2 separate regions of the Homo sapiens genome follow, and region 1 is linked to region 2. The links come from fine-mapping of genetic effects on gene expression. A gene starts in region 2. The other region holds a variant in brackets. All regions are shown on one strand. Distances are between the middles of the regions. Region 1 overlaps CRAMP1 (cramped chromatin regulator 1). Region 2 holds the start of CRAMP1 (cramped chromatin regulator 1).

Region 1 (4,379 bases), 25 kb before region 2:
CTGTAAAAGGGCTCTTGAGCCCCTACGTCCGGGCCCACTCCCACCCTGTGGAGTGTACTTTGGTTTTCAATAAATCTCTGCTTTTGTTGCTTCATTCTTCCCTTGCTTTGTTTGTGCATTTTGTACAATTCTTTGTTCGAAATGCCAAGAACCTGGACACCCTCCACCTCTCAGAAGCTTCTAGGGAGGAAACCAGAACAAGCAGTGGTGCAAAAGGACCAGGCAACAAGGAGTGGGAACACATGGTCAAGATGGGGTTTTCCTTTATCTGGGGAAGATGAGAGCTGGGAGAGCTGTGGCGTAAACTCCTTGGGGCCTGGGATGCTTCCCAAGGCTGAGAGAGGGCAGATGAGAGGCGGCAGGAACAGGCATGAAGAGCTGGGACACGAGGCCCACGGACATGAGTGCGGGCTGGAGAGGCAGGCTGGAGGAGGTAAGAGGAGTGGCTGGGCCCACAGGGGACAGACCCAGTGGGGAAGTGCAGGAGGGCAGGGCCTCCCACACACAAATGCCACACTAGATTGCAGCAGCCACCCCGCAGGACACAGCAAGGCATGGAGGGGCAGCAAGGGGACAGAGTGTGGTGCAGGCCTGGCACAGACAGGGCGACTGCTCCGTATCTGTCCTCTCAGCCCCACCACCCGCCCTGAGCTGTGACATGCTAGCTGGCGTGGTCGTGCAGTATCCCACTGAAGAGGGGGGGATCCCCTACAGTGCCCACTGGACAGCCCAGGCATGCTCTCTTCTTATGAAGTCAGGCAGAAGAAGCAGGGCTGAGGGGCGCTGGGCACAAGCGCCTGGTAAGTCTACAATGTCCCTACCTAGAGGTCGTGTCAAAAATGTCTCAAGGGAATCTGGTCCCGAGGAGACGATCGGAACAAATCCAAGCAAGGGCCTGCGTGAGGAAGGCCTGAGCGCGTTGCAATGTCTCAGAAGCCCAGGCAGTGCGGCCGCTCTAAGTCAAAGACACCCAAGGGAGACTCCACAGTCACATGCAGGGCAACGGCCCTTGACAGAAGCCCTGACTGATATTTTGGGATGTTTTAGAAAATCTGAATATGGGCAGGAAATTAGGTAAGATCACTACACCTGTTTGGTAAATGCTAAAAGTCTAGGTGCGACCATGGTATCAAGGCTATATAGGAGAAATGTTCTCTGAGGTGATGCCGGTGGAGGTATTCTGGGCTGTGGCGTGACATCTTACAGTCGAGTGGAATGCAGAGTGTGTGAACACATGTGTGCACGCGAGCATGTGTGCATGTGCATGGAGAAAGAGAGCAAATGTAGCCAACGTCAGCAACAGGTCCATCTAAGCTAAAGAGCACGGCCGCCATCATATTCTTCACCTCTTCTAGTAAAATTTTTTCAAGATAAAAGTTAGAGGGAAACTAGAAACAACTCTGAGCACTAAAGCCCAAAGGTGACAAAGGACAGGAGGAGCCGTGGGCAACCCCACAGTCAGCGTACTCACAGCCCCCAATCTTCTTGCGCAGCTCGCCATAGCAGATCAGGCCATACAGTTCCTGGGATGACTTCTTCAGGCCTCGAGAGAACACTGAGAAACAGAAGAGAAGGCGGCTTTAGAGAGGGGAACAGGAGGCGCTGCCTGGCTTGGGTGTGAGAGCCACACCAGGCTCA[C/T]GTGGTTTCTTGGATCTCCTCCCTGTACCTTTGTCATGCAAGCTGTCAACCACAGGGGACACTGGGCAGAGTGTATAGAACACGGTGCTGTGTCTGCGATTTTCAAAATAAAAAGTTAAACCAAAGTGGGGCGTTAGAAATTTACCCCAATAGGCAGAGGAAATGTCCCCTGGAGGAGAAAACACAACACTCAGAACAGCTGGTACTCGTGAAGGTGGCAGATGTGGCCAGCACTAAACCTGTCATCCATCTCTGCACACAGGTGAGGCCAGCAGCCCTGAAACCTGGATGCTGCCTTCCTGCCTCACCTGTGCCCTCCCAGGACAGTGGATCTGCATAGCCCGGGCCCAGGCGGGAGGAGGAGCCAAGGACAGGTGCTCACCCCTGCCTGAGGCCCATTCTCCTTCCTCAGTAAGAGGCCCTGTTTTTTTTTTTTTTCTTTTCTTGGAGACAGGGTCTCACTCTCTCGCCCAGACTGGAGTGCAGTGGCATGATCTCGGCTCACCGCAACCTCTGCCTCCCAGGCTCAAGAGATTCTCCTGCCTCAGCCTCCCAAGTAGCTGAGATTACAGGTGCACACCATTATGGCCTGGCTAATTTTTGTATTTTTAGTAGAGACAGGGTTTCACCATGTGGGCCAGGCTGGTCTCGAACTCCTGACCTCAAATGATCTACCTGTCTCAACCTCCCAAAGTGCTGGGATTACAGGCATGAGCCACCGTGCCCAGCCAAGGCCCCTGTTTTATTTGGGAGGCAAACAGGCTGAGACATGGACAGCTGGTCATGGCTACACCACTGGAAGTAGTGGAGACTTCCAGAAGCCTCCTTAAAGAGCCTGATTTGGGCAGGAGGGTTCCCCTTTTCCCACCCCTCTTTCCTCAAGAGCCACTGCCTGGAGCTGTCACCAAGGACAGCCAAGCACAAGAATGGGAGGCACCTGGGTCCTGCCTGCCCTGGGCGCCAGCCTCTAGGCGTCTCTGCCACGAGACAGTGAATTCTGAGGCGCTTGGGCCACTGCTATTTTGCATTTTGTTACTGTATTACACCAGACCTAATCCTGCTAGGGAAACCAAGTGACAACACAGTCCAGGCCCCTTTGGGTCACTTCACAGAGCAGGGGTGAAGGCCATTTGTCCCCTCTACTCTCACAATTGTCCTCTCTAGTTCTCTCCTCAGAGACCTGTTCTCAAGGCCCTAAGACTGGTAAATGGAGAAGCAGGCTTTCAAGATATGAGGAGGATTCTGGACCATGGGTCTCGGACACGGCTAAGCACAGGCCAACTGCTCTCAAAGGCTCTTCTGAGAGAAAGACCTAAGACCTAAGGGCTCATCAGACTTTCTTTTTTTCTTTCTTTCTTTTTTTTTTTTTGAGACAGAGTTTCGCTCTTGTTGCCCAGGCTGGAGTGCGGTGACGCGATCTCAGCTCACTGCAACCTCCGCCTCCCAGGTTCAAGGGATTCTCCTGCCTCAGCCTCCCAAGTAGCTGGGATTACAGGCATGCGCCACCACGCCCTGCTAATGTTTGTATTTTTAGTAGAGACGGGGTTTCACCACGTTAGTCAGGCTGGTCTCAAACTCTTGACCTCAGGTGATCCGCCCACCTCGGCCTCCCAAAATGTTGGGATTACAGGCGTGAGCCACCACGCCTGGCCTCATCAGACTTTCTTAAAGGAGCCCATGACTCGGAAAGCTTTAAGATCCACTATTCAGTAGACAAGCAAAATGTGGCCATCCACCCAAAGGAAAATAATCCAGCCATACAAAGGACTGGCACACGCTACAACACAGACAAACCCTGAAACCTGACGCTGAGTGAAGGAAACCAGGCACAGAAGGACACATAGCACGTGATCCCATTTCTATGAAACATCCAGAGTAGAACGATCCATAGAGACAGGAGGTAGTAAACTGAGGGCTCCCAGCACCGGGGCACAGGGTTTCCTCCTGGGCAATGGACATATTCTGCAACTAGAGAGTGGCAATGGCTGCATAACCTTGTAAGTACATTAAGAACCACTAAGTTGTATGCTTTAAAAGGGTGAATAATATCCCCATTTCTAAAATATATATTTTAAAGTCCACTATTTGAAATGGCAAAAAGAAAAAAACCCACAACCCAGAAACAAGAAAGTAGCACCAAGAGCAAGACACTGCAGACAAGGGACCCCAGGGGAGGTGGGACCCTGGGACGAAGCAGGGCTTCCGGGAGGTGTCCCTGATGCCCCGCCTGGCCCCACGGCCTCCTAGGTGGCACCTCATGTTTTATTACACACTCAGGGACAGGAACCAAGCTCACCTCATCCAACTTTGAGTTCGTGAAGCAAAATCTCCACTGAGCAATGGACAGCAGCAAGGAAACGCAGATGTGCATGGAAACCACGGGAGATTAGTAAGACGAACACACACGCAAGGCCCCCAAGCTGGGGGCGGAGTCAGTCCCTTCCACGCTCGCTTGCCACCACTCTGTGTCTCACGCCACAAGATGAGTCAGACAAACCCATGATAAAGTGCACACGGTGTGCTCTTCAAAACTCCAAAGCACAGGCCAGGCGTGGTGGCTCACGCCTGTAATCCTTGCACTTTGGGAGGCCGAGGCAGGTGGATTTCCTGAGCTCAGGAGTTCAAGACCAGCTTGGCAACATAGTGAAACCTCATCTCTCCTAAAAAATATAAAATTAGCTGGGTGTGGTGGTGCACACCTGTAATCCCAGCTACTCGGGAGGCTGAGGCATGAGAATCGC
Region 2 (4,363 bases):
CCCGGCCCGCCCGAGCCCGCCCGAGCCCGCCGCGGCCCCTGCCGCCCCCACGCCGCCGCCCCCGGCCCTGCCCACCAGCCCGGGACCCTCCCGGGCCTCCCCGGACGCCCCCTGGCCGAGGCTCGCGTCCAGACGCCCGGGCCGGCGGCGGGAGGGCGCGACAGCTCGGCGGACCCTGCCCGGCCCCGGCCCCGGCCCCGGCCCCGGGGTCTATGGGAGCCCCGGCGCGGGCGCGGGTCTGGGCACGGTTGCGGGTCCGGGCCGCTGCCCCGCCCACAGCCACCTACCCGGCGGGGCCGCGGCTCATGGCCTGGCCCTGCGCGCCGGCCTCGCTCCCTGCGCCGCCTCGGCCGGCCGGGCCGCAGCCCCAGCCCTAGCCCCTCGTCCCACCCCCTCCCCGCCCCCCGAAAGGCGCGGGGCTCCCGGGCCCCGCGCACCTGCCCCACGCGCCGGCCCCCAGAGCTGGCCCTGGAGGAGGACAGAGGAGGCCGGATCCACCCCGGGACGGGAGAAGCGCGGGCTCGCCTGCCCGCACGGGGAACTCCATGGTGGCCCAATGCCGCCGGCCCGCCTGCTTATTTTAAAACACACATAAAGAATAATCAGCTCCGGGTCTCTGGGAATCTTCTTCCCAGGGTGGGAAATGTGAGCTGCTGCGGGGATTTACTAGTTAAAAATGCTTTTGCAACAAAGGAGCCTGTTGCATGGAACAGGTTGGAACCACCCGGGAAAGTGACAGCCCAGTTATGTCCGGGTCCAGGTGCAAGAAGCGGTAGAAGACAATGGTGTTAAAACTCTTGGCAACAATTAATAAAATTATTGCATCAACTTTGCTACCCACCGCCCTGTAAAATGTCAACAACAAAGTGCAGTGACTAAAAATGCTGCAGCCCAGAAAGCAGAGCCACTCAAAAATAAACTCAGACAATCAGGTACACAGCAAGAGCTGCAGCCCAGAAACAGTCCGGGACGGGCACGTGTGAGGAAGCAAAAACGCTGAAGATTAGATTCCTCAGCAGATACTGACCCTGCGTTCAACTCAACTGTTGAGAACGGGGGCATTTCCACTTCAAAGGAACACACGATCGAGGCACCAACACCAACCACGAAATACAGGGACGCGGGCGAGGACCTCTCTTTCCGAGAGATCGGGAAATGGCTTCAAAGTCGCAATGATGCCCCCACCCTGAGGTGCAGATCACACAAGGATCCGTGGCCGTTTTCTCCTGTCGGAATTGGTCTAGGGAATCTCGAGTTCATGCTAGTTTTAAAAAAAACTCTGCCAAAGAACAAAACCACCCACGACAAACACCCCAACTTAAGGGATTTCGTGGCAAGACTTCCCACTCTTCCCCCTCAACCCACCTCTTTCCACTCAAGAAACCTAAACCCCCAAAGACCTCGTCTCGGGCTGAGAACCCCGCTGCCCAGGGACCTGTCCGCCCGCAGGCCACCCGGGACCCAAGCAAAACAAACTCGGCCACCAGAGTGAACTCGCCCGCTCGCCGGGCTCCACACCCAAGACGCCGACCGAGCACGGGGAAGCGCTTTTCGCCACTGAAAGGACCGACGCCGTCCAGACTTTACCCTAAGGGCCAACAAGCAGGGGGATGGCCTCCTTTTCGCGAGAACCTCCAACGAGACCGGACTTTTCTCGGAGGCGCAGTCTCCTCCAGCCCCGTCCCGCTCCGCACCGGCTCGCGTCTCGGGATGGGGACGCAGAAGCCTCCTCGCCCTGAGGCCAGTTGTGGCTGTACCGGGCGCTGTGGAAGCGACGCCCCCCCCGCGCTCTCCCGCGCCGCCCGACAGGACCCCCCGGCCGGGCCTCGCCATGACAGCCCCGCCGCCCAGCCTTGGTCACCTTTTTCATCAACGCCGGGCGGCAGCCTGGCTTCCCGGGGCCTCCCCGGGTGCCCGCAGAACCAGCCGGGCCGGGCAGCCCCGGCCCCCGAGCGCCGGCTGCAGGGAGGCCGCAACGCCGGGCTGGTCGTCCGCCTCGGAAGCGACTGGTCGAGCGGCGCTAGCCCCGGCACGTCCCCTCCGCGGGCCGGCGCGCGGCTGCGGGGGCTGCGGACGCAGATACTGCCGCCACTCACCCTAGCGAAGCCGGCCCGCCGCCCTCAGCAGCAGTTCCGGCTACGGCGGCCGGTGGGGACCTCACGGACGGCGCGCGGGGGCGGGGCCGGGGTGCGCGGGCGCGCGGGGCGGGGCGACGAACGCGGGGGCGAGCACCCCCAATGTTTCTTCGGGCCCGTCTCCCCAAAACGGCGCTCCCATTGGCTAGCGCTGGGCGGGCGCGCTCGCACGTACGAGCCCGGTGGGCGTCGGGGGCGAGCCCGCGGCGCCAGTAGTGTTGTGACGCCAGCCTCGCGACCTTGCGGACTGTGCGTCTCTTTGGATTGGTGGACAGACAGCCAATAGGCCAGGGCCCGTGCTGTGATTGGCCGCAGCAGTGTTGACGGATACGTGAGAAGAAAACGGCGTGGTAGCTCGGAGTGTGGAATCGGGCGCGAACCTGAGTTCTGAGAAGTGTGGAAGCACGTCTGAGGCAGTTAAGCGCACCCTTTCCTGGGTGGAGTATGTGCTTCTGCGCTACGTTAGCGTAGCCGAGCGGCGCTGGGCACTTGGTCATTTTCTTCATAGCAAGAAAGCAGAGGGGTGTTTTTCAAATTCCAGTGTTTCTTTCTTTCTTTTTTTTTTTTTTTGAGACGGAGTTTCGCTCTGTCGCCCAGGCTGGAGTGCAGTGGCGCAATCTTGGCTCACTGCAAGCTCCGCCTCCCAGGTTCAAGCGATTCTCCTGCCTCAGCCTCCCGAGTAGTTGGAATTACAGGCGCGCGCCACCATACTCGCTAATTTGTGTGTTTTTAGTACATACGGGGTTTCACCATGTTGGCCAAGCTAGTCTCGAACTCCTGACCTCAAGTGATCCGCTCGTCTCAGCCTCCCAAAGTACTGGGTTTGCAGGCGTGAGCCACCGCGCCCGGCTCAAATTCCAGTGTTTCTTTTTCTTTTCTTTTTTTTTTTTTTTGACTCGCTCTGTCGCCCAGGCTGGAGTGCAGTGGCCCGATCTCGGCTCGCTGCAGTCTCCGCCTCCCGGGGCTCAGGCGATTCTCCTCCCTCAGCCTCCTGTAGCCGAGACTAGAGGCGCCACCGCGCCCGGCTAATTTTTGTAATTTTTTAGAGACAGGATCTCGCCTTGTTGCCAAGGCTGGTCTCGAACTCCTGGGCTCCAACGATCCGCCCGCCCCAGCCCCCAAGAGCTGGAAGCCCAAGCGCGAGCCCCGCGTCCGGCCGCCAGCTGCTTTCTTGGGGGCGCTCCCTGCCTCGCTTGGCTCTGTGGAGTCCGGGGCCCGGCGATGGAACAGGCCCTCAGTCACCCAACACCTCAGGACACTGCCGAGCGCATCGACTTTCCCAGAAACGCTTGACCCACGCCCTCCGCTCCGAAACTAGAAAAGCGGAGCCCAGGGAAGGCCTGGGCCGAGACCGCCGCGTGCTGGAAAGGCTCCGCCTCGGGATGCACGGGAAGGGAACACGCCCAGGAGGGGAGGATGCCGCGGTTGATCGGGGCTGTGACAGCGCGCCCTCCACACAAAGGGGACCCAGACGCCGGCCCTGCGCCGCCGTCTCTCCTAGAAAAAGCTCGTCCCGCTTCTCTCTTGCAGAGCGGAATAACCTGGCCCCCGACGCTCGGGCCTCGGAGCTGCACGTGCGTGCCCGATCGCCTTCGGCTCTTTCCGGCCGCTCGGGGCGCTTCGGGAGTCCTCGGGGCCGCCTCGCTCACCTTCGGCTATTTCCGCGTTCCTGGCGCGCCGTTGTCCCGGCAACGCGCGGCGGCTCAGCGGCCTGGCAGAGGTGAGTGGCCTTAGGGCTAGGGCGGCCGACCCAGGTCCTTAGGAGCCAGGCCGGGGTTTGGGGCCGAGGATGTGACCGGTGGCGGGCGTCGGGACCCTCCCGTCTCCTCCCACGATCCCGGCGCCGCCGAGTCCCCGCGGCCCCTCGCGAGTCCCATCGAGGCTGGGGCGGGCTTGGCGCGGGGTCCAGGTCGCTCGTCGGACTATGGCTGTCGCCCCCGCCCGGCCTCGAATCGCGGCTGATTCCGGTAGCTGGGAGAGTCCCTTTGGAATGGGCGGGGTGGGGAGGTGGGCGGCGCCATCACACCCCCGAGGCGAAACGGGACAAACGAGAGATGCAAAACAAAAACATGCTATGTTTGGTCACTCGCTGGGTCGGCCCTGAGGGTCGTGTTGCATCAAACCGCCAGCGCATGGCTTCTCAGTACCGTCCGCTGGATGCAGCGAGGACCCTGCGCAGGCCGAAGGCTCTGGACTGTGGCCTGGAGGGCGAGGCTTTGTAGGGTGGC

What was found. PIP is the estimated chance that this variant, and not a neighbour inherited with it, causes the effect.
Region 1: its variant is fine-mapped to the expression of CRAMP1 in whole blood (TOPMed, PIP above 0.99).

Annotation. Positions count from the first base shown.
Region 1 is chr16:1,635,000-1,639,378 of GRCh38, reverse strand. CRAMP1 (cramped chromatin regulator 1) reads right to left here. Exons shown (of 21, transcript NM_020825.4): 5 at 1,472-1,555. Among named protein-coding and RNA genes, the nearest start is that of CRAMP1, 25 kb to the right of the region's middle. The variant C/T (reference allele first, on the strand shown) is at 1,639.
Region 2 is chr16:1,610,156-1,614,518 of GRCh38, reverse strand. CRAMP1 (cramped chromatin regulator 1) reads right to left here and starts at 2,159. Exons shown (of 21, transcript NM_020825.4): 1 at 1,862-2,159. It overlaps IFT140 (intraflagellar transport 140), which reads left to right and starts at 2,447. Exons shown (of 31, transcript NM_014714.4): 1 at 2,447-2,551; 2 at 3,666-3,855. LOC105371046 (a long non-coding RNA gene) reads right to left here. Exons shown (of 3, transcript NR_135176.1): 3 at 4,191-4,363. RefSeq lists enhancers at 1,263-1,763, 1,764-2,264, 2,653-2,712 and silencers at 1,643-1,802, 1,833-1,952, 1,973-2,502, 3,741-4,120.